Linked DNA regions of Homo sapiens: all the other regions are reported to be linked to region 6. The links are microRNA targets in miRTarBase. Many come from high-throughput screens and were not tested one by one. Region 6 holds a microRNA gene; each other region holds the end of a gene's coding sequence.

Region 1 (4,089 bases), not on the chromosome of region 6:
CCCAGCTAGCAGAAAGCAGCCAGTTCTCTGTCTATAGTGGCCAAAGAATCTTTGATCCTGGAAGGTTCCTCTAAACCTGTGGTTCTGTCCCCTGGCTCAGAAATGATCCATTGTGGCTGCTTATTAAAAATGTCTGGTTGGCTAATTAGCTTTCTTTTCTGAATGTCCATTAAGAGTCAGATTTCAGTCTCATAAGCGTAACTATCACATATCTGTGCGCCACAAAAATTCCGCAAGCTGTGACAAAAAGATTCATGATGATTGTGATAACGATAGCTGGTGTTTATTGATTAGGCACTCTGGAGAATCTCATTTTTCCTCATGACAGTTCTGGAAAGTGAGAATTACTTAAGCACAGAGAGTTCAAGTGACTTGGCCAAGGTTACACAGCTAGTAAGGAACGAACCAGGAATCACACTTAGATTTTGTCTGTTTCAAAAACCAACACCCATCATCAGTCCTAATCACCGTGCTGTGGCAGAGATGGCCTTTTACTAAGAGACTGTGAGATGTTCCTAATTGTTTTTTCTTTCCTTGTTCAGTGTGACAACATCTGGGGTGATGGAAAGTATGAAGAAAGTCAAGAAGGTGACCAACGGCTCCGTGGAGCCCCAGGGCGAGTGGGAAGGCGCCGTGTGACAGAGCCGACCCTGAGGATGGCACTGTCCAAGGAAACTGTTAACTTATTCATAGTCCTATTGGACAGCAGGAGCAGCTCCTACAGTGAACTATTGGCACCACCGACAGTGACACCAGGGCACATGGCTGGAGCACAGTGCCGCGGAAACCTGATTTTGTACTCTCTTTTATGGAAACGATCTGTGGCTGTTTAGAGGCAGCTGGATCCTCTTTCAGGCGGGAATGGGAGGGCGGGCACAGGGAGGAGGAGAGGAAGAGAAAAGGAAGAATTCATTTTTAATTTAGGTTTCTTTTTTTCTTCTTCATTTCGGAGCTCTAAGGTGTATGCAGTTGTGACCCCATGTGTGGGGAAGTGTAGCAAGGACGGCTGGTGGAGGGGGAAGGAGGGTGCGAGGTGTCTGTCTGATGCTTTAGGAAATGTCTACTGAGGACCCTGGGACTTAAGAAGAAGGGCGGGGAGAGTGCCATTGCCTGTTTGGGAGACAAAAATGAACGAAAACAGGTGACTTTGGAAAGCAAAGTCAAAACCCAGTTTAGGATGTAGCACCTGCCCCAGGATTCCTGCCCTCGGCTTTGCCCCAGACCCTTATTCCAGATGCTGAGAGTGACCAGGACAGCAGCTCCTGAGGCCCAGTGGTCTTCTTTCCAACAGGAAAAGAAGGCTGTGATGTCGCTGTCAGGATCATGCCCTGTGGCACAGCACAGGTGGTGGGAGGTGGTTTTCTGACTGAGATGTTGCCTGATGGATGGAAAGAAATGTATTTTTAAGTTCAAAAAGCATTATCCTGTGGCGTTGCCTGGACATCCACTCCCTGACAGCCCAGAGCAGCACTGTCTGGCTTCCCTTCATGCTTGTGGCTTTGTTGTGTTTGATCAGAATTTTGGGGGAAATGGAAAGTTTTCCTCAAGGAGCAGCTGGGGGCAGAATAGGTAGTATTTAAGCAAATACTTAAGTCCAAGCAAATCATCCCCATTAAAAAGCTTTTCCTGTAGGCTAGTAGGATTTCTAAATAGATGAATTCAACAGACTTGGTCCCCATAGTCCAAGAGTATGTATGTGAAGAAAGTGAGCATGATTCAACAGTTTCACTCTCAGGGATTTTAGGATGGCAAAATACTTCACAGAAACTCAATGATTAAGTTCCCTTCCACACTTCCAGAGCTTGAATGAACACAGGTAGCCACCTAAATTGAGCAGTATTGCAACTCAGAGAGAAAATCATCTGAATAGTAGGACAAGCTCAGAAGGTACATTGTGACTGAGGGCTTAAAAGGAGACCAAAACATGGCCCCATCAGGGAAGCTTCTTAATGCTTGGGGGGCCAGCTAGGTAGGGTTGCTTCCAAAAGCTGGAGCCCACCCCTGCCTAGGGGTTGTCAGAGAGCCACACCTGCAGGGGAACAGGTACCTCCGAGGGTGAGAGTCGTGGTCTCTGGGAGTTGTTTTCTCACCTCTGGCTTAGAAGGGTCAGGCAGAAACCACAGGATGTGGGGTCACACTCACTGTCCCAAGTTTGGGAACCTGAAAAAGTCTCCATTCAGAACATGGTTGTTCTCCCTGTCCCATGCTATCTTATCTTCCTAAATGACTAATGAGGAAGCGGGTGTTCTTTTTCTGCACTTTGATTCGCCATCTGGGTTCTGTAGGGTGCTCTGAAGGTGTGATCTGCCTTCTGGCTGATGTGGAGGAAGAGCAAGCGCCTTCCCAGGCCACAGCTGCTCACCTCTCGGCAGATATTTTAGGCAAGCATCCGTGTGTCTTCCCATCTTCAGGAGAAAGGTAAATGCACCCTAAGTGTTCACTTCTGGACCTTTTTCAAGTTCACTTGGGACTGTGTGACAGAAGGGAGTTGGAGGGAGGATGGGAATATTTTTAACACTTTGTTTTCCTGTGCAGAAACATAATACCAGTTTTCGCAGAAATGTGTCTCAATCTGTGACTACCAAAGCCCTCCTCAGTCCTTCCCTCAGAGGGACACATTTGCTGTTTCTCCCGCAAGCAGATGTTGTGGATGAGGCGATAGACTCCTTGGCAAGAACGAAAGGTGTGATGAAACCTCCCTGCTCGGAAGGGTCTCCGTGGAGGTGTCCTCATTTCACATGCTGGGTTTTGCAAGCGAGGAAGCCAGGCAGTGGAGGAACTAGAGAGAGGCAGGCGTGTGTGTGGACAAGCGCTGGAGCCGCAGCCCTCAGACTGGCACGGGAACGCCAGCGTTGGGTGTTCAGATTCCACGCGTATGTCTGGGCTCACTCACAGCATGGCCGAGTGTCTGCAGTGCTGGTCCTGACCCTTCCAGAGCAGCAGTGGACAGATGAGATAAGACTGTTTCAGAAACAAAGATGGCCACAGCCTTCCTAACAAGCAGGTCATCTGGCCATGTCTGTATTGTAACTGGTAAAAGGCTTCAAGTCAGATTGATGATCAAGAAAAGTCAAAACCCCAGCCCAAGATTGGGAAAGCAGGTGGTGGTTCCAAGCTTTTAAAAAATTATTGAAGCTCTCCATCCTGTTCTGTGAGTGTGTCTTCTCTTTCTCCTTCACGTCATAGCCGTGACCCACCGTTCATCTCTGCTCTTGCGTAAAGATGACCGATGGAGTCCAAAGCCAAGTGGCTTCACCAGCTGACAAGCCACCCTCCTGCAGCCTGAGTTTCACAGTCCACTGGGTTCGTTGTCATGCGGTGTTTGAATGGTTAAGCCCTTGCAGTATTTCAGATCGGGCAAAAAATATCGGATGCACATAGCAGAACCATTGGTGGTATTTATAGCTTTGCTTTGTACTCCTCACTGTTTCTGCCTACGCAAAATATCCATGTTTCCTCTGAGAAATCTGTTGTGGACTGAAAGCGCTGCTGGCTGTGAAATTTAATAAAGTGTGTATGCTTTGCTAGAAAATTATTTCTTGGACAATAGGAACAGTCATTGATCTGTAAATCCTGGCTCTTAACAGTGAGTGGCCAAGGACTTGATCAGCCCATTTCTTGGTCCCTCAGTGCTTTAAAATTTAAGTAGCACTGCATTTTGTAATGTTGAATATGACTCTAGTGACTTGTAGGAGGCACTTGTGAGGAGATGCTTGCTTCAGTGTAAAAGATGCTCATGGCCTGAGTCAGTTGAGTTTTCTTTCAAGAAACCACTTCAGAGTGAAATATCCAGGGTTTCCCCGCCCTGGACATGTCCAGCCTGCCCAGGCAGCACACAGCCCTGTAAGTCCACCTCGTGTGGGTGAGATTTCCTCCTGCGTGATGACCTCATCGCCATCTCTGCTGTCTCATTCCACAGCCTCCCTCCCTCTTCTCTCCTCCTCTGCCCTCGCCCTTCCCCCTTCCCCATCCCCTCCCCCTCCTCCTCTGCCCTCGCCCTTACCCCTCCCCCTTCCCCTTCCGCTCCTCCTCCCTCCTCCACCTCTTTCTCCTCCTCCTTCCCTCCTCCTCCCTCCTCTTCCCTTCTCT
Region 2 (4,089 bases), not on the chromosome of region 6:
CAGTGGCGCAATCTTGGCTTACTGCAACCTCCACCTCCCAGATTCAAGCAATTCTCCTGCCTCAGCCACCCGAGTAGCTGGGACTGCAGGCACATGCCACCACGCCCACTAATTTTTTGTATTTTTAGTAAAGACAGGGTTTCAACGTGTTAGCCAGGATGGTCTCGATCTCCCGACCTCGTGATCTGCCCGCCTCGGCCTCCCAAAGTGCTGGGATTACAGGCATGAGCCACTGCGCCCGGCCTCTCTCAGAATTTCTTTACTCATGATGTTGGAAAAAAATAAACTTCCTTGTTGTGAGAATTAGGAATAAGCTATGCACATGGTCCGGCAGACAGTTAGCTCTCAGTAAAGAGTAACTCTTGGTTTTGTTTGTTTGTTATGTGTTGTTTGTGTTGCTCTTGTGGTGGTTGTGGTGGTGATGATTATGGTTTTGCCCGTTCCTCATAAGAGGATCTTGTGTTTGCCTGTTCACAAGTAAACAGTGCTATAGTAGCCTGGTCCTCTTCTCATGGCCTGCACCAGTAGTTCTCCACAGTGGGTGATCTTGCCCCCTCGGGGACATATCCTACAATGCACAGAACAGCCCTCCCCCGGTAAAGAATTATCCAGCCCAAATGGCAATAGTGCTGAGGTTAAGAAATTTATTATGTTTATTTATGATAAACATAATAAACTCTAGAGGCAGGAAAACCTTAACAACCATCAGTATATTCATCACAAATTTGAAACTATACATGAAGAGAATGAAGGACCATTTTAGAAATAAGCATAAAATAAGTATGGATAACTATTAAACAGGCTGCCTGGTCAATCAGCGTGGCTGGATGTGTTCATGATATATTCTTTTTTAACAGTACATTCATTCATGCTTCAGGTACATATAGCATGATGAAGTCAATGCTCAACACCACCAACCTGAAATAAATAGTTAACTTGCCGTAGACAAAGGGGCTTTCAGTAATACCCTAAATCTCCAATTCCACGAATTAAAAATCTTAATATGGGTGTGCTACATATCTAAAAGCTGATCAGACTGGACATTTAAGATGAATACACTTTCTACACTTTAATGTATAAAAATGTTTATATATTTCAGTATATAAACATTTTATGAAAATAAATCTGTTATATAATCCAAACAGAACTGGGCTAAAGTTAGCTTTGCTTTGGAGATGACACCATATAACTAACAGTATAAACCAATTTAGAGTGTGTGTGGACCCTTCTGCACATTTGAAATACCTCTGTACATTGAAATGACTAAACTGCCTTTTCAGATCACACTTACTCAAGCCAGTCCTCTCAGCTCAACAACTTTTATTAGTGGACTATGAGTTTTAAAATAAAAAGCTCATGTGTATATATTTTTTAATTATCACAACTAACTCAGAAAGTCCTGTTCTCTTTTCAACTCAAGCTAGTGAGGTCATCCAAGTCTAAGACGATTTGATTTCTCACTTGAGGAATGGCATTTTCAAACCACTTCAAGAAACAAAGAGCTAACCTGGGGAATGTCTGAGGGTAGAAGGAAGTACAAATTGGGAAAAGGGGTAAAGTCTAGTAATAATCGGCATTCTACTCTCTCCCCCCAGTTTTTGAGCAATGTACATACAGTTTTATACTCAGGATATAAAAATGCCAAAAAATATATTTAATTGACAATAAAGTAATAATGTGGTTTTTATGCTATTTATTTGAAATAGAATTTTAGAAAATTATGCACGTGTTTAATCCTGTAAATAGTAATGAGAGAGAGCATTTGAACCGCTGAGAACCTAAACTTTCCACTTAACTTTTAATGTAGAAAGGATCGGTGCTATTGAAAAACTGTCTAACTATCCTACGAAAGTGAGACGATGGTCTTCAGGCCACAATCATGTAAGTGATGCCAACTGGGAGTAAAGAAAAATGCACTTAACATTATTAGAGATAATGTATTTTTTTAAAAAAGATTTGACAGCATAGGCAAGTCTGTGGGTGGTAAATCATGTTTGAAGGCAGAAGAGGCAACAGCAAAGATACCCAGATTCTGCTCTGTGCTTAGTTTAATAGGAAGTGAAGGGGAATTAAGGCTGAGTATAAAAAGCATCTTGAGTTGAAGCTCTTTTTTTTTTCTGTGAACAAATAAACTTTATTCAGGTATAAAAAGCAAGTGCTTTTTCAAATACGTAAAATCTAAAAAGTGTAATACCCAAAGTATTAGTCCATTCTCACACTGCTATGAAGATATACCTGAGACTGAGTAATTTATAGAGGAAAGAGATTTAATTGACTCACAGTTTAGCATGGCTGGCGAGGCCTCAGGAAACTTACAGTCGTGGTGGAAGGGGAAGCAAACACATCCTTCTTCATATGGCAGCAGGAAGGAGAAAAATGAGAGCCAAGTGAAGGGGGACACCTCTTATAAAACCATCAGATCTCATGAGAACTTACTCAGTATCATGAGAATAGCATGGAGGAAACCAACCCCATGATTCAATTACCTCTCACCAGGTCCCTCCCACAACACGTGGGGATTATGGGAACTACAATTCAAGATGAGATTTGGTTGGGGACGTAGCCAAACCATATTACTCATGGACTTATAATGAAGTAATCATTAAAGGCCTTACTTCAGTGAGGAGAGCACAGACCGAAGGAGCCAGATGGAAACCAGAATATGTGAGTCAAGAAAATGGTGAAACATGCCAGTAGGAAAATCTATCTTATCTATCTATCTATCTATCTATCTATCTATCATCTATCTATTTATCTACCTACCTACCTACAATGGTTAATTTTATGTGTCAACTTAACTGGACTAAAGGGTGTCCAGATCTTTAGTTAAACATTATTCTAGGTGTATCTGTAAGGATATTTCCAGATGAAATTAATATTTAAATCAGTAGACTAAATAAATCAGATTCTTCACCTCAGTGTAAGTGGACCTCATTCAACCAGTTGAAGGCCTGAATAGAACCTAAGGCAGTAAGGAAGAATTAATTCTCTGTCTGGCTGTCTTCAAGCTGGGACATGGGTCTTGGTGAGGTCAAGACCTTCAGACTTGGTCTCGAACTGGAACTTACACCTTCGTGTTGAAGCTCTTGATAGTCTAGTCTCTTTAACTCAGTGACAGAATTTGGTGCATCCGAGTTCCCAGAAATCAGAAGTATTGCTGCTTAGAAAGCCACAGCATGGCCTCAGCAAAGGCTGAGAAGGAATGACTGAAATCTACAAGGTTGTAAAGAATATCATTAACAAGGTAAATAAGAAAAACCTTGAAAAAGGAGGGTCAAATTCAAATTTAAAACCCTATTTTAAACAGTAGGGGAAGAACTTAAAAATCTCACCAACCTAGTAAAAATAGGAAATTTATATAATTTCATTTCAATGTTGGTGAATTCATAGATTATAGATACATAGAGAATTTTAGGGAAAACTGTGATGAGCTGGGGATAATCTTCCAAGTTAAGGTGAAGGAAGAGTCTGGGCAAATAGGGGTGACTGTGTTTATCCCTTTAACAAGTATTGACTGTGCCCCATCACATGCCAAGCACTAGGCTGCATGCCCGCAATAACACACTCCCTGCCTCAAGCAGGGCACAGGCTAGCAGGAGACTGGATGAGTAAACTCATGATTAGAATTATGGACATGCTGCATTCTGCAAATATTTTCTTGTGCTCTTGATGACATCCTGCATCCTATTTCCATCTTGTATTCACCCAACTCAGAGTATAACAGCTACTTGCATTGAAAATGTCTTTCTTCAAGAATAGCTGAGGTTTAGATAAGTCTTTGTAACTGTGAAAAAGCCTGAAATCCTTTTGTTCTAACTCTTTGAGAAGGCTGTACCAGAACCGCACAACGCTGCTGTCACTGCCACTGACCTCAAACCCAGGCCAGTGGAGATGGATCTCAAAGATGAGCTGTCCAATCTGCTCAAGAACATCTTCCAGAATAAGATTTTCCAAAACTTTCCATTCTGCACTTTCCAGATCTGCCTTGAGAACGTCAATCTGTAACAAAGCAATGAAATGAGATTAGCAGATTTAGTAAAACTATCTTGATATCAGGAGTTTCACATTATAGCTACCTCTGAAGGAAAC
Region 3 (4,089 bases), not on the chromosome of region 6:
CAAAGTCTGAAGTCAGCCTTGGTTTGGCTTCCTATTCTCAAGGGTTTTGTAAAAGTTTAATCTGAGAGTCCTTATAAAAACTTAGAGCAAATAAAATTCTAAAAGAGCGCCTACATGGTCTATTGCTACTCTTGCTGCACTTATGTAAAGAATCAGACCACGTTTGAAGAAACTCAACCTATTTTGCAAACAAACTTATTCTACTGAAATTATCATTGGTAAAACTAGAGATGCCCATAGAGAGAAAAATTATGTGGAAAATAAAAACTGTAGTACACCGGTTATGAGATTGCAGCTCTGTTCATTGTTTCTGTGTTTTTATTATCCACCTGTAGACTGGATATTACCCTGAATTCTACTAGTTCCTCCAATTCCATTTTCTCCCATGGAATCACGAAGAGCAAGACCCACTCTGTTCCAGAAGCCCTATAAGCTGGAGGTGGACAACTCGATGTAAATTTCATGGGAAAACCCTTGTACCTGACATGTGAGCCACTCAGAACTCACCAAAATGTTCGACACCATAACAACAGCTACTCAAACTGTAAACCAGGATAACAAGTTGATGACTTCACACTGTGGACAGTTTTTCCAAAGATGTCAGAACAAGACTCCCCATCATGATAAGGCTCCCACCCCTCTTAACCGTCCTTGCTCATGCCTGCCTCTTTCACTTGGCAGGATAATGCAGTCATTAGAATTTCACATGTAGTAGCTTCTGAGGGTAACAACAGAGTGTCAGATATGTCATCTCAACCTCAAACTTTTACGTAACATCTCAGGGGAAATGTGGCTCTCTCCATCTTGCATACAGGGCTCCCAATAGAAATGAACACAGAGATATTGCCTGTGTGTTTGCAGAGAAGATGGTTTCTATAAAGAGTAGGAAAGCTGAAATTATAGTAGAGTCTCCTTTAAATGCACATTGTGTGGATGGCTCTCACCATTTCCTAAGAGATACAGTGTAAAACGTGACAGTAATACTGATTCTAGCAGAATAAAACATGTACCACATTTGCTAATACTGTTCTCTTAAAATAATTTTAAAAGAATGGGGTGGGCCCTCCCATGTGTCCAGGCCAGGTCTCTGAACAGAATCCTCCATCTGCAGTAACAATGCCTAAGAAGATGACATGGACTTGGTCCTGATATGCAGCCATTCCTGTATACCCTTCCCCTGCTGCAGGGCTGTACTAGCCCAGGGCCCAAATCTTCAGCTGCAGAGCTGAGAGAGAACATGGGATACCCAGCATCCCTTACCTTCTTCCAGTTCACTGCAGTGGCTACCGGCATGGCCCATTTATCCCTGAGGACACCCATCTGCTGACCCACAGTTTCTAAGAGTCAGACTTTCCTGGCTTCTCTGAGTCCCAGCTACTTTCACTCTGCTGAATCCTTCTTCTCCCCACAGGTGTCATTGACTTAGCAGACACCTCTTTCAGCTGCAGCTAACAGGTAAGCCAAGACCCAGACCCCAGAGAATAAACAAGGATTTCAAAACCTACTGTGTCCAACGGAGATGCCCACTTGTGGGCGGCAAGCCACCCAGGTGCCGAGGCAAGAGACCGAGGGCACGAGCTTTTCCAGTATAATAAAATATAAAAGGAGAATAGTTATACCAGATATAGATCTTAGATATGATTATATAGGAATATCATTAATCATTAGTTGGTAGCAATTACTCTTTATTCCAATATTATAATAATCCTCGCTCTATGATTATAACCTAGGAAAAGCCAGGTCATAAATAGATAGGAGCTGGGGAGACATAGTGAGAAGTGACCAGAAGACAAGATTGCGAGCCTTCTGTTATGCCCAGACAGGGCCACTAGAGGGCTCCTGGTCTAGTGGTAATACCAGCGTCTGGGAAGACACCTGTTGCCAAGTGGACCATGGACTAGAGGTACCCTCAGTGTCAAGGAAAAACACCCACTACTTAGCAGACCGGGAAAGGGAGTCTCCCTTTCCCCGGGGGAGTTTAGAGAAGACTCTACTTCTCCATCTCTTGTGGAGGGCCTGATGTTAGTGAGGTCCAACCACAGTTATCCGGAGGCCTAACCGTCTCCCTGTGATGCTGTGCTTCAGTGGTCACACTCCTAGTCTGCCTTCATGTTCCATCCTGTACAGCTGGCTCTGCTGTTTAGTTAGCAGTAGCAAATTAGTGAAAGTACTAAAAGTCTCTAATAAGCAGAAATAATGCTGTAAGCTCTTTCTCCTCTCTCTCTCTGCCTCAGCTGCCAAACAGAGAAGGGCCCCCTGTCCAGTGGACACGTGACCCATGTGGTCTCACCTATCATTGGAGATGGCTCACACTCCTTATCCTGCCCCTTTGTCTTGTATACAATAAATATCAGCGCAGCCTGGCATTCGTGGCCACTACCGTTCTCCACGTCTTGGTGGTAGTGGTTCCCTGGGCCCAATTGTCTTTTCTTTTATCTCTTTGTCTTGTGTCTTCATTTCTACAATCTCTCATCTCTGTACATGTGGAGAAAAACCCACCGACCCTGTGGGGCTGGTCCCTACACCCACTGTACAGAGACATAAATAAGTAGAGATGTATACAACTCCCCAACAACACGGTGTCCTAAAACAATGTTCCCTTCCCCCCTCATCGTGGAATTTACTGTCTCTCACCACATGGGCAAGTGCTTCCAGGGTCTCACAATTCTTCCACAAGAGGCAATGCACACTTTAACATAGCACTTCAGCAAATAAAGTGGTGACAGTTTACCTACTTAGAATAAGTTTCTTGAAGGTTCTCCCAAATTTCCCCCTGAAGAAGACAGAAAAGGCTTTCCCAATTGTGAAACACTGGCCTTCCCACCTTTCAAAAAGGACCACTGAATAGCCAAAACAATCTTGCCGAAATAAATTGTAGGACTTGAACTTTCTTATTTGAAAACTGACAAAGTAGTACAATTATTAAAACAGAAGCTGCTGGCAAAAGATAGACATAAAGACAAATGGGATAGAATTGAGAGTCTAGAAATAAACCCTGACACTTATGGTCAATTACTCTTTGAAGGAGGTATCAAGACAATTTAATGGAGGAACAATTCTCCTTTCAAATGATAGTGCAGAAACAACTAGATAACCACATGCAAAACAGTTAATTTAGATAATTCTACCTCCCACGATATCAAACCATTCTCTAAAAAATTGATCACTGAGTTAAATATAAGACCTATAACCATAAAAACATCTTAAAATAAACATAGACGTAAGTATTGATGATCTCAAATGTGCAGTGGATTCTTAGATATGATACAAAAGCATGAGAAACAAGAAAAAAAGATAAATTGGGCTTTATCAAGATGTAAGCCTTTTGTACATCAAAGGAAATTATCAAGAAAATAATTAATAGGCACAGAATGAGAGAAAATATCTGCAAACCACATATAGGCAGTTTTCATGTCCAGATAATATCAAGAACTAGCTACAACTCAATAACAAAAGGACAAACCATCCAATTTATAAATGGGCAAAAGACTCAAATAGACATTTCTTCAAAGAAGATATACAAATAGTCAAGAAGGACATGAAAAGATACTCAACATCATTAGTCATTAGGAAAATACAACGTCAAAGCTACAATGAGACACCAATCACACCTACAAAACTGGCTACCATTCTTTTACAATGTTAAATAACAAGTAGCAGCATTATGTAGAATTTCGAATCCTCATATATTGCTGGTGAGAATATAAAAATGTACAGCCACTAGGAGAAACAGTTTTCCTGTTCCTCAAAAAGCTAATCATAGAATTCTCATTTGAAACAACATCCATTCCTAGGTATATACCCAAAAAATTAAATCCAGGGACTCAAACAGGTACTTGCATAGGAATGTTGATTGCAGCATTATTCACAAAAGATAAAATATGAAAACAATCCAAGTGTTCATCAACACATGAATAAATAAATATGGTGACACATACAACAGAATGTTAATCTGCCATAAAGAGGAATGAAGCTCTGACACCCGCTGGAACATGCATGGACTTTGGAAACATTATGCTAAGTGAAATATGTCAGAAACAAAATAACACCATTGTATAATTCCATTTATATGAACCATTAAGAATAGGC
Region 4 (4,074 bases), not on the chromosome of region 6:
AGGCTGATTTTGTTTGTTTTTAAACTGATTTCTAGGGGCTTCTTCCATTAAAGTGAACAACTCAAAATTTTGGTCTCCAGATTTGTATTGTACCATGATTCGGTCTACCAGGGTTTGATATGAAGGAGTCTTACTTATGTGAGAGTTGAAATGGAAAGAGTGGGCTGTAGGGAAAGCTTTTGCACAAGAACCAGCAAGGAAAGTAATTTAAAAGGCTATCAAAAGTTAAAAGTACATGCAACTCGTTACTTAACATTCGAGTTCTTTATTCGGATTTTTTTAGATATAAAGTACTCCATTGGTGCTGCTAATACTTTGAGATTGGGAAAGAATGATGGTAATTGTATTTTTCTTCTTTAGAACGCGTATCACAATGTGACTGCAGAGCAGCTCTTTTTGAAGGACATTATAGAAAAAAACCTCGTAATCAACTTGACTCAAGATTGACTCTACAGACTCAGAAGATGATGCTAACAGTGTTAGTTTTATTTTTGTACTGCAATTTTTAGTTTAAAATATGTTGGATGCACTCGTCAAATAATTATGTATACTGTCTGTTGCTGCCTGGTGATTCATAACCACCAGCTTAATTTCTGTGAATACTGTATATTTAACTTATGAAAACCAAGAAATGTAAAGATAACAGGAAAATAAGTTTTGATTGCATTGTTTTTAAAATAAGCTAGTTTTCTGAGGTGTTTTCACACGTCTTTTTATAGTTACTTCATCTTAGATTTTTGAAGGGATATGACTTCCTACTAAGGATTTAGTTTACCACAACAATTCTGACTACAATAAGACATTTTGAGGAGGATATTTGGCTACTGTAAACATGGCTGGTGGAAAATCACGATTGTGGCTTGATGTGGCAAGCCGAAACCACTTGGCTCTGGAAATCTAAGTTCATACTGGTTTAATTAAGCTCTCTCCTGACAACCCCCAGAATTAAATGAACCATGATTGTGAAGAGTAATTTGGTACAATGAAGGCAGTGTTTGTTTTTAAGTTAAAGGAAATGGGCTAAACATAAAGTTCTTATTAGATAAGTAAATAACTAAAGAAAGAATACAATTACTAAACTCTGATGGCTTTGTATTATTTTAAAGAAATGAAGTTTAACTTTATACAGTGAAGCTAAGCTAGGCAAGCTCAAGAAGGAAAAAAAAATCTTGAACATTATTTTTTTTTGCCTGACTTACTTATTCATTAAATTTTGAAGGTTTTCCACTTGAAGTAAATTAGGAAAGGTAAAGAAGATAACAGAACAAGTAAACACTTAAGAAAAGTCAAGCTGAGGCCGGGCAGGGTGGCTCACACCTGTAATCCTAACAAACACTTTGGGAGGCCGAGGGAGGCAGCTGGATTGCCTGAACTCAGGAGTTCAAGACCAGCCTGGCCAACATGGTGAAACCTCATCTCTACTAAAATACAAAATAATTAGCTGGGCGTGGTGGTATGCGCTGTAGTCCCAGGTACTCGGGAGGCTGAGGCACGAGAATTGCTTGAGCCCGGGAGGCAGAGGTTGCAGTGAGCCAAGATCGCGCCACTGCACTTCAGCCTGGGTGACAGAGTGAGGCTGTCTTCTAAAAAATATAAAAAGTGAAGTTGGGATTTTTGGATTTAAATGGTACAAAAAGAATATCTCATTTTCCCATGATTAAAGCTAATCTTCAGATGGAAAGCTTGCCTGGCTACCTAGGGTGCACCAGAGAATCTGATCCAATGCAAGCCAGTCAATCCTACAAATGTGGTGAGCTAGTCTTCCTTCCTATATTTTAATAAATGTAACCAAAGGCCATCTGGAGGTAGGGGAATGAGAGGTGAAGAAACAGAAAAATAGAGGTTATAAGGATGGAACTAAAAGTTGTCAGAAGAGGTATGAGCTGAAGAAAGAATTACTCTCTTTTGACCAATAAATACAATTGGGAAACACTGGAAAACCATGGCTTGATTACTGACAACCAACCTGCCTCTCTAAAGAGGGTGTATAAAGGGTGAAATACATTAGATTTGGCTCAGAAACAGAATGCGGTACTTATAAAGCAGAATAAAGGGGAGAACAGTAGTAGTTGATCTAACCCAGATTAGACATGAATACCAGCATATGTTTGCAGAGTCCCACAGTTTTGATTCCTCTTATAACTTTTTGAGGTGCAAAAGGAAGGTACCAGAACTGGAATCACATGTAATCAATCAGTGTGATTTTCCCCTCATACCACACAGCCATAGGCTGCAGTGTGGCTGCTGAAGTTCAATTGATATAAAGTAAATCAGGCTTCAAAAAGAATGGTGCTGTGGGTACACAAGGACATAAAGATGGGAACGATAGACACTGAGGACTGCGGCGGGGGGAGCGAGGGGAGCGGGGAGGGCAAGGGCTGAAAGACTATGTATTGGGTACTATGCTCACAACCTGGATGATGGGATCATTCATACCACAAACCTCAGTATCACACAATATACCCATGTAACAACCTGCACTCTGCACATGTACCCTTAGAATCTAAAATAAAAGTTGAAATTATTTTTTTAAAAAAAGGATGGCGCTGGTCATAGAAAAAGTCAAAGTAAACTAACAGTGTCATTTTCAAATGTTGCTGGAAGCACAATATTGGCCATAAATTAGTGAGGTTAAAATAGAAGAATCTGGCATTTTATAGTATAAGGAAAAGCTACAAACCTCAAGGTTGTTTTATTTAAACCAAATAATCTGAGCAAGACATATATACATTAAAAACAAATGAACACATTAAAATTTCACTATTTTACAATCTAAATTCTAGCAACATATACAAATACTGAGTGACTACAGTACATGCCGAGGTAAGATAAGTACATTCTGGGAGAATATCACTGACGCTCAAACCATTTTTATTTCCAATATGTATTTCAATACATGTTTGTTTCCACTTTTCCCAGTGCCACACACACACACACAAAAACAAAACAAAACAAAAAAAAACAGTCACAAGTTGGATTACATTAGAATTGGTGCCACAGTTGACTTTAAAAGCATTTTAATAACCACCCAACTCTTAGATTTTGCAGTTTAGGGACTTCAAGTTCAGAACCAAAAAGCAGAGAATCGTTTCATGTGACATGATGTTTCTATAGACCTCTTGCTCTCTAGGTGACAATGCAGAGCCAGGGCAAAGGTGTTTAAGCTTTGTCACCTTCCACAGCTTTGTGGCCACATTCATATTTAGATAAGCTCGGACTCTGCTCCCCTCTTCTGGAGATGGGGAGAGGCAAGTGTGTATGTGTTGTCATACTTACTGCATTAATTCTTCACTCGAACCGTTTACATCAGCGAATAAACCCATTGTTCAATGCAAAGTGCAAACAGTGAAACATGAACTTAAATAAACTGGACTAGACCCATCACATCCAACAGGATCTATTTAGATTTACAGCATTTAATAAAGTATAAGTCAGAATTCACAATATCTTAAACTGTGCTGTTTCCTAAGATCAAGTAACAGCCAAGTCAGTGTAATTTTATGAAACCTGTAATGGCCACATTTGTTGTGTCTCCGATGTATTTCTATAATTGCATTAACAGGAAAAAACTTAATCCAATATACCAGTGACTTTGAGTCTTAAATGTTGCAAGCAAAGGATAAAAATTCAAGGGAATTTTGTCAGATATGGTTACTTTCACATTTTCAGTTGTTACTTGATTGTCTCCAAAGCCGTATATGTATCAGACATATAAATGTAGTAAAAAAAAAAAAAAAAAAAATAGAAAACCTCTACTATAAAAACCAATGAACTAAAAAGAAGTATAAAGCAGAAAAACCATTTGAATCAGGCTCAGCTCTTCATCTGGAAAGTAAAGTTTATATAAAAGTAGTAAAAACTAGATATTTTATAAAAATTATTGGTAGTTCAAGGATAGCACAGTGGCAATATGAATCGAGTCTTAAAATATGCATCATTTCAGAAAACACTTGCCCCTCTTAAAAAAAAAAAAACCCAAAACTAAACAACAACAACAAAAACCTCCAGGAAAAAACAATCAGGTATACACAATTAACACAAGAATAGCAAACTTCTTTGGGAAAATGAAATAGT
Region 5 (4,089 bases), not on the chromosome of region 6:
ATTAGATTTGGCAACTGGGAGGCATCCCTGTTTCACACTTTTTTTTTTTTTTCTGAGACAGTGTCTTGCTCTGTTACCCAGGCTGGAGTGCAGTGGCACAATCTCGGTTCACTGCAGCCTCAGCCTCCTGGGTTCAAGCGATTCTCCTGCCTCAGCCTCCCGAGTAGCTGAGATTACAGACACCCGCCACCGCGCCCGGCTAATTTTTGTATTTTTAGTAGAGACAGTGTTTCACTGTGTTGGCCAGGCTGATCTTGAACTCCTGACCTCAGGTGATCCACTCGCTTCGGCCTCCCAAAGTTCTGGGAGTACAGGCGTGAGCCACGGTGCCTGGCCCCTGTTTTACACTGGAGGAAAGTGAAGCTCAGAGAGCGGTTTCTTCAGCTCGATTACAAGTGGTCGAGCCCAAACCCACTCCAGAGACTGGACCCCTAATCACAATACCAGCCATTCCCCGAGGAGCAGCCGGTGGCTAAGCAGTGGCGAGGTGGGTGGAAACTCGGCCCAGGTCACAGCCCGCCCCCTGGGGGACCTGGTTGGCTAAACCGCCGTGATGACCGGCAGGTCCTGAAACCAATGAGGCAGCGGATCTCTCCCAAGTCCCTAAATGCACCGGGCCCTTTGCAGAAGCGACTTCCAGAAGCTTAAATGCCCTCGACCCCCCCCCGACCCCCGCCCGCCCGAAACCAGACCGCTGACATCTCACCAGGATGGCGGCTTGGTATTTACTTAAGACCTTTGCACATGAATGGTCTGAAGTCGCATAGCATCGCTGGAAGTCGGGTTATTTATTATTATTATTATTATTATTATTATTATTATTATTATTATTATTATTATTTGAGACGGAGTCTCACTGTCGCCCAGGCTGGGGTACAGTGGCGCGATCTCAGTTTTCTGCAACCTTCGCCTCCCGGGTTCAAGTGATTCTCCTGCCTCAGCCTCCCAAGTAGCTGGAATCACAGGTGCTCACCACCACACCCGGCTCATGTTTTGTATGTAGTAGAGACAGGGTTTCACCATGTTGGTCAGGCTGGTCTTGAACTCCTGACCTCAGGTGATCCACCCGCCTCGGCCTCCCAAAGTGCCGGGATTACAGGCGTGAGCCACCACGCCCTGCCGGGTTATTATTAATGATCCCTCCCTTTTTTTGAGACGGAGTTTTGCTCTTGTTACCCAGGCTGGACTGCAATGGCTTGATCTTGGCTCACTGCAACCTCCGCCTCCCGGGTTCAAGCAATTCTCCTGCCTCAGCCTCCCAAGTAGCTGAGATTACAGGCATGCGCCACCACGCCCAGCTAATTTTTGTATTTTTAATAGAGATGGGGTTTCTCCATGTTGGTCAGGCTGGTCTCGAACTCCCGAACTCAGGTGATCTGCCTGCCTCGGCCTCCCAAAGTGCTGGGATTACAGGCGTGAGCCACCGAGCCCGGCCAATAATCCCATTTTATAGTGGATAAACAGGTTCCCAGAAGCAACAGGGGAGGCTGGGGTTGCACAATGATCCTGAGGAGGGTCCCAGCCCTGCTCACGCCTCATCACACAGGCGGCCCCTTGAGGGCCCCCACACCTCCCCTTCCTCCAGCAAGTTCTCGCCTGGGCTGCACTGCCACACACTTTGGGCTCTGAGCCACACACTTTGCTCACATGACCTTATTTTTAAATTTTTATAGTTTTTTTAAGAGACAGGATCTTGATATCGCCCAGGCTGGAGTGCAGTGCTGTGATGGTAGCTCCTTGAAGCCTCCAACTCCCAGGCTCAAGCAATCTTCCCACCTCAGGCTCCCAAGCAGCTAGGACCACAGGCCCACCCACCAGATCCGCCTAATGTTTTTACTTTTCGTAGAGATAGAGTCTTGCTATGTTGCCCAGGCTGGTCTCAAACTCCTGGGCTCATGCTATGCTCCCGCCTCAGCCTCCCAAAGTGCTGGGATTACAAGCGTGACACCCAGCCCCAACATGACCTTACAATGATCCCCTGGAGTAGGACCTCTTTACTGCCTCCACTGTACAACCAAGGAAACTGATGCTCAGGCAGATAAAATACTGATCAGAGGTCTCACGGCTGGGTAGCAGTGAACTTGGCTCTTGAGCTGGGTAGATATCCTGAGTGCAGCTGAGGATCCCCCAGTCCAACCCGCCATGTGGGTGTCCCATGTCTGGGCGGTAAAAGCAGCCTCTATCCATTTTATTTTATTTATTTTTTGAGACAGAGTCTCGCTCTGTTGCCCAGGCTGGAGTGCAGTGGCACAATCTCGGCTCACTGCAAGCTCCACCTCCCAGGTTCATGCCATTCTCCTGCCTCAGCTTCCCGAGTAGCTGGGATTATAGCCGCCTGCAACCATGCCTGTCTAATTTTTTGTATTTTTAGTAGAGACGGGGTTTCACCATGTTAGCCAGGACGGTCTCAATCTCCTGACCTTGTGATCCACCTGCCTCAGCCTCCCAAAGTGCTGGGATTACAGGCGTGAGCCACCGCGCCTGGCAGGCTCCATCCATTTTGACAGCACCAAGCTGCCAAAGTGTTACCAGAAAGGCCCGATCCAGACCCCAAGAGAGGGTTCTCCAATCTCACGCTAGAAAGAATCCAGGGCGAGTTCATAGAGTACAGTGAAAGCAAATTTATTAAGAAACTAAAGGAATAAAAGAATGGCTACTCCATAGACAGGGCAGGGCTGCTGGTTGCCCATTTTTATGGTTATTTCTTGATGATATGCTAAACAAGGGGTGGATTATTCATGCCTCCCCTTTTTAGACCATATAGGGTCTAAAGGTTAACGTCCTGATGTTGATGTGGCATTTGTTTTTTTGTTTGTTTGTTTGAGACAGACTCTCGCTCTGTTGCCCAGGCTGGAGTGCAATGGTACAATCTCAGCTCACTGCAACCTCCACCTCCTGGGTTCAAGCGATCCTCCTGCCTCAGCCCCCCTAGTAGCTGGGATTACAGGCACGCGCCACCATGCCCAGCTAATTTTGGTATTTTTAGTAGAGATAGGGTTTCGCCACGTTGGCCACGCTGGTCTTGAACTCCTGACCTTAGGTGATCTGCCCTCCTTGGCCTCCCAAAATGCTAGGATTACAGGCGTGAGCCACCGCGCCTGGCCAGCCATGGCATTTGTAAACTGTCATGGCGCTGGTGGGAGTGTAGCAATGAGGACGACCAGAGGTCACTCTTGTCGCCATCTTGGTATTGGTGGGTTTTGGCCGGCTTCTTTACTGCAACCTGTTTTATCAGCAGGTTCTTTATGACCCGTTATCTTGTGCTGACCTCCTACCTGATCCCGTGACTTAGAATGCTTTAACCATCTGGGAATGCAGCCCAGTAGGTTTCAGCCTCATTTTACCCAGCTCCTATTCCAGGTGGAGTTGCCCAGGTTCAAACGCCTCTTACAGAAGCACCGGACTGTTCCAAAGCACCTTCTGCTTCCCTTCTTGTCCTCCTCCCACGATGGGGAGCTCACTACTTACTACCTCTCCAGCAGTACCATCTGTAACAAAGTCCTCTCTCAGCCTGGGGGAGATCTGCCTGGGTGCTCCCTACACACACACACACACACACAAACACACACACACACACACACACACACACACACACACACACACACCCCTTCTGAAACCAGAGATGGGGGCTGCTGTCAGCATGGGGCAGCTGGAACATTCAAACATTTCTCCCCAGGCTGGATGGCCAACTCCCCAGCACTCAGCCCCGGGCCTGGATGTCCTGGGGATGAAGCTGTCGCTCGCCTTCAGCCAGGAAGACAAGGAGGGCACGGTGCAGCAGGTGCACCCCCAAGCGCCGGCGACGAGCAGGTGGCCAGCCTGCCACCACTCCATAGCAGTGCCCTTGCTTCTGGTTGGTGAGCGTCTGGATCCCTGGAGAAATTGGATGTGGGGTCACAGGGGCAGCCATGGGGACACCTCCCCATCCAGCAGAAGTGTGTGACAGCAGGCGGCTGGGTATGGTGGCTCACGCCTGTAATCCCAACACTTTGGGTAGATCACATGAAGCCAGGAGTTCGAGACCAGCCTGGCCAACATGGTGAAACCCTGTCTTTACTAAAAAATACAAAAATTAGCTTGGCACAGTAT
Region 6 (4,089 bases):
TTGCATGCCCTTGGCATAGCATGGTACACTCCTGGAGGGTCAGGTCCCCTCCACCGAATTTTTTTTTTTTTTTTTTTTGAGACGGAGTCTCACTCTGTCTCCAGGCTGGAGTGCAGTGGCTAGATCTTGGCTCACTGAAATCTCTGCCTCACGGGTTCAAGCAATTCTCCTGCCTTAGCCTCCTGAGTAGTTGGGACTACAGGCGTGCGCCACCACACCCAGCTAATTTTTGTATTTTCAGTAGAGATGGGGTTTCACCATGTTGGCCTGGATGGTCTCAATCTCTTGACCTTGTGGTCCGCCCACCTCGGCCTCCCAAAGTGCTGGGATTAGAGGCATGAGCCACCATGCCAAGCCCCCTCTACTGAATTTTAGAAGCTTACACCTTTTGGACAAGTCCAAACTCCCTTTGCTTGGGCATTGAGGCCCTTCATGATGTGGTCCTTGCTTAGAACCTTAGCCTCAGTTCTCATCATTTTCCTACTTGATGCTCTGGAGGGCATGATCGAACTGCTCAGAGGTTCCAGAATATACCTCTGTGCCTTTGCACTTGCTGCTCCTGCTACCTGGAGTACATTCTCTACAGCAGTCTACATGGCAAGCTTCTACCCCTCTTTTAGGCCTCCTTGTCTGCTCACCTGGCCCAGGGGGTCACCCTTTCTTTGTGCTGCAGTCCTCTGTGGACAGCATCTCCTTCTGTGCAGTTTATCATGTTGCCATAATGATATTATATCATTATCACTAAATAAACCAGTATGGTTTGTTTAATAGACAGACCAAGTATGGCTGGATAAGTCCCTTCTCTGAAGCTCTTAGAATTGACAACTCTGTGCTTGAATGTCCACATTCCATTCCATTGTCTCACAGCCCTCATGATAAAGTTCTTTCTCTTGAATTGGTAGGTACTTTCATTCATTCATTTAATGATTCAAAAATGTGTAGTGAGTGCCTAAAATATTCCAGGTACGGATCTGGGTACTACATTTTTAGGAGAAGATGACACATAGTTTATTTTTAAAATTATTTTTTAAAATTAATTAATTAATGTTTTAGAGACAGGATCTTGTTCTGTGGCCCAGGCTGGAGTGCAGTTGGGCAACCATGGCTCACTGCAATCTTGAACTCCTGGGCTTGAGTGATCCTCCCACCTCAGCCTGCCCAATAGCTAGGACTACAGGCAAGTGCCACCACTCCCAGATAATTAATTTTTTTTTTTGAGACGCAGTTTCGCTCTTGTTGCCCAGGCTAGAGTGCAATGGCATGATATCGGCTCACCGCAACCTCTGCCTCCCGGGTTCAAGCGATTCTCGTGCCTCAGCCTCCCGAGTAGCTGGGATTACAGGCATGTGCCACCACGCCTGGCTAATTTTTGTATTATTAGTAGAGATGGGGTTTCTCCATGTTGGTCAGGCTGGTCTCAAACTCCTGACCTCAGGTGATCTACCTGCCTCAGCCTCCCAAAGTACTGGGATTACAGGCGCAAGCCACCGTGCCTGGCCACAACACGCAATTAAAATGACCCTTAAAAGCTCCTCAAATTGCCAGGACATGGATCTTTAGGAAAAGCAAAGAATTAACTCTGCCTTCTTTTTGCATTTCTTCAGTAGCTCCCCTTGCAGAAGAAGCCAAAGTCCGGCTTGAAAGGGAGGAATAAGTTTTTTTTCCTCAGCGGATAGAGTTGGATTCTCATAAGCTAAGCGTGAACTCAGGCCACACTTTCAATATATTCATTGGTCCTTTCAGTGCCTTCAGCCCTTGGCACCTGGGGAGGAATAAGTGGTCACTCTGATGAGAAAGTTGGGGTCACAGGCTGGTGGGGACAGACATGGCCCCAAGTGATTATAAAACCAGGTGGAATAAAAAGTGTCCACACATCCTGTGTGTACCAGAATGCAACTGGAACACCCCCCACTGCCCCCTTGTCCAGGGTCTTGCCTTTGCCTGGTTCCCCACCAGAGTCTCCTCACCCGCACCCCCAACCCCCATGCCCATGCCCATTCCCCGGACTCCCGCCCTGCAGGGATACTCCTTTGTGGCACCCTCCATTCTCTTTGACCACAACAACGCGGTGATGACCGATGGGCTGGAAGCGCCTGGTGCTGGAGACCGGCCAGGTCGGGCAGCGGTGGCCAGGAGCGCTATGATGCAGGTGGGCTGGGCTGGGCTGGGTTGGGGGGAAATTGGTTTTAGGAGAGGCCTAGGCCCGGGGACTCTAGGCCTAGATCCAACTGGCGCCCGCAGCGTGAGCTCAGCAAGGTCCTAAGCCTCTCCGACATGGGGCGTGGCGGGGCCGCGGGGCTACCAGGTGGGACCTCTGACGCGCCGCCTTCGCCTTCGCCTTCGCCTTCGCCTCCAGGACTCGCCCTTCTTCCAGCAGTACGAGCTGGACCTGCGGGAGCCTGCGCTGGGCCAGGGCAGCTTTTCTGTGTGTCGCCGCTGCCGCCAGCGCCAGAGCGGCCAGGAGTTCGCAGTCAAGATCCTCAGTCGCAGGTGGGAGGGCCCAGGCGCGGGCAGGGGTGGGGGTGGCAGAGCGCTGTCCCGGGGGCGGGGCCGAAGCGCGGCGACCGTAACTCCTTCTGCTCCGTCCCCCAGGCTGGAGGCGAACACGCAGCGCGAAGTGGCTGCCCTGCGCCTGTGCCAGTCACACCCCAACGTGGTGAATCTGCACGAGGTGCATCACGACCAGGTGATGGCTTCCGGCCAGGGGAGGGCGGAGAGAAAAGGGGCAGGCGGCGGGGCTTGGGGGCACTATGGGCGGGATCTAGGGGTGAATTGGGCGGGGCCTAGCGTTTGATTCGGGGCCCAAAGGGACCAGGGAGGCGCAGGGAGTGGAATTTGAGGGGAGTAGGGCCTGAGGACGGGAAGGCGGAGCTGAGGATGGACAAGAAAAGGGACTTTGGCCGGGCGCGATGGCTCACGCCTGTGATCCCAGCACTTTGGGAGGTCGAGGTGGGCGGATCACTTGAAGTCGGGAGTTCGAGACCAGCCTGGGAACATGGCGAAACCCCGTCTCTACGAAAAATACAAAAATTAGCCGGACGCGGTGGCGTGCGCCTGTAATCCCAGCTACTTGGGAGGCTGAGGCACGAGAATCGCTTGAACCCGGAAGGCAGAGGTTGCAGTGAGCCGAGGTGGTGCCACTGCATTCCAGCCTGGGCGACAAAGCGAGACTGTCTCCAAAAAAGTAACAAAGAAAGAAAGAAAGAAAAAGGACTTTGAGGAGGGGGTTCTCGAACATTGGCAGGGCCCGAAGGCCGGGGGCGGGGCCTGGGTGGTGGGAGGGGGCTTGCCGCCGTGGGTGGGTGTTGACCTTGGCCCGCCACGCCGCCCGCAGCTGCACACGTACCTGGTCCTGGAGCTGCTGCGGGGCGGGGAGCTGCTGGAGCACATCCGCAAGAAGCGGCACTTCAGCGAGTCGGAAGCAAGCCAGATCCTGCGCAGCCTCGTGTCGGCCGTGAGCTTCATGCACGAGGAGGCGGGCGTGGTGCACCGCGACCTCAAGCCGGAGGTGGGCGAGCTGCCTCGGCGGCGGGGCGGAGCGGTGGCGCCGGGGGCTGCCTCTGACCACTACCCCGCCGCCCTCGCAGAACATCCTGTACGCCGACGACACGCCCGGGGCCCCGGTGAAAATCATCGACTTCGGGTTCGCGCGGTTGCGGCCGCAGAGTCCCGGGGTGCCCATGCAGACGCCCTGCTTCACGCTGCAGTACGCTGCCCCCGAGCTGCTGGCGCAGCAGGGCTACGACGAGTCCTGCGACCTCTGGAGCCTGGGCGTCATTCTGGTATGGGACGCGGTCCTTGAGGCGGGGTCAGGGTCGCTCGGACCTGGCGTCTTCCTGATGTGCAGCAGCACGAGGGAGGGGACAGGGGTCATCTTGGTGGGGGCGGCTGGGTTTCGTCCGAAGCTGGGATCGGGGTGGTTCAAATACAGAGGTGGGGTCGCTCTGGTGCTAGAGTCGGAGCATCCGGGTATTGGGGGTTAGAAGTCAGGGTTCACCACGCGTGGGTCTCAGGAGTGCCCCTAGTGGGGAGGGTGAGTGGTTCTGTGGGAGCGGAGGGGTCAGCCTCGGCACCCCAGCCTGGGCCGGC

Evidence for each region. Region 6 holds the annotated microRNA hsa-miR-1237-3p (UCCUUCUGCUCCGUCCCCCAG, at 2,572-2,592, shown strand). A microRNA usually pairs through its seed, bases 2 to 8, with sites in the 3' UTR of a target mRNA and lowers its output. Matches are read on the target gene's strand: a 7mer-m8 pairs with bases 2 to 8, a 7mer-A1 pairs with bases 2 to 7 and ends in A, and an 8mer does both.
Region 1: the mRNA of GPR107 is a reported target of hsa-miR-1237-3p. Seed matches in the 3' UTR shown: 7mer-m8 at 1,882-1,888 and 7mer-m8 at 2,479-2,485.
Region 2: the mRNA of METTL24 is a reported target of hsa-miR-1237-3p. Seed matches in the 3' UTR shown: 7mer-A1 at 2,345-2,351.
Region 3: the mRNA of PSG4 is a reported target of hsa-miR-1237-3p. The part of its 3' UTR that is shown has no 7-base or 8-base seed match.
Region 4: the mRNA of ST3GAL6 is a reported target of hsa-miR-1237-3p. Seed matches in the 3' UTR shown: 7mer-A1 at 1,153-1,159.
Region 5: the mRNA of ANKLE1 is a reported target of hsa-miR-1237-3p. Seed matches in the 3' UTR shown: 7mer-m8 at 3,607-3,613 and 7mer-m8 at 3,417-3,423.

Annotation. Positions count from the first base shown.
Region 1 is chr9:130,134,483-130,138,571 of GRCh38, forward strand. GPR107 (G protein-coupled receptor 107) reads left to right here. Exons shown (of 18, transcript NM_020960.5): 18 at 543-4,089. The coding sequence ends at 639. Among named protein-coding and RNA genes, the nearest start is that of GPRACR, 7.7 kb to the right of the region's middle.
Region 2 is chr6:110,242,262-110,246,350 of GRCh38, forward strand. METTL24 (methyltransferase like 24) reads right to left here. Exons shown (of 5, transcript NM_001123364.3): 5 at 1,679-3,999. The coding sequence ends at 3,685. LOC105377937 (a long non-coding RNA gene) reads left to right here and starts at 1,809. Exons shown (of 2, transcript XR_942858.3): 1 at 1,809-1,881.
Region 3 is chr19:43,189,635-43,193,723 of GRCh38, reverse strand. It overlaps PSG4 (pregnancy specific beta-1-glycoprotein 4), which reads left to right. Exons shown (of 6, transcript NM_002780.5): 6 at 336-1,022. The coding sequence ends at 352. Among named protein-coding and RNA genes, the nearest start is that of PSG5, 5.1 kb to the right of the region's middle.
Region 4 is chr3:98,793,315-98,797,388 of GRCh38, forward strand. ST3GAL6 (ST3 beta-galactoside alpha-2,3-sialyltransferase 6) reads left to right here. Exons shown (of 10, transcript NM_001323368.2): 10 at 361-2,538. The coding sequence ends at 447. DCBLD2 (discoidin, CUB and LCCL domain containing 2) reads right to left here. Exons shown (of 16, transcript NM_080927.4): 16 at 2,627-4,074. Among named protein-coding and RNA genes, the nearest start is that of ST3GAL6, 32 kb to the left of the region's middle.
Region 5 is chr19:17,286,164-17,290,252 of GRCh38, reverse strand. ANKLE1 (ankyrin repeat and LEM domain containing 1) reads right to left here. Exons shown (of 9, transcript NM_152363.6): 9 at 2,607-3,873. The coding sequence ends at 3,701. Among named protein-coding and RNA genes, the nearest start is that of ANKLE1, 6.3 kb to the right of the region's middle.
Region 6 is chr11:64,366,112-64,370,200 of GRCh38, forward strand. MIR1237 (microRNA 1237) reads left to right here and starts at 2,491; the gene lies at 2,491-2,592. RPS6KA4 (ribosomal protein S6 kinase A4) reads left to right here. Exons shown (of 17, transcript NM_003942.3): 10 at 2,021-2,149; 11 at 2,357-2,490; 12 at 2,593-2,686; 13 at 3,335-3,508; 14 at 3,588-3,782. RefSeq lists an enhancer at 3,048-3,567.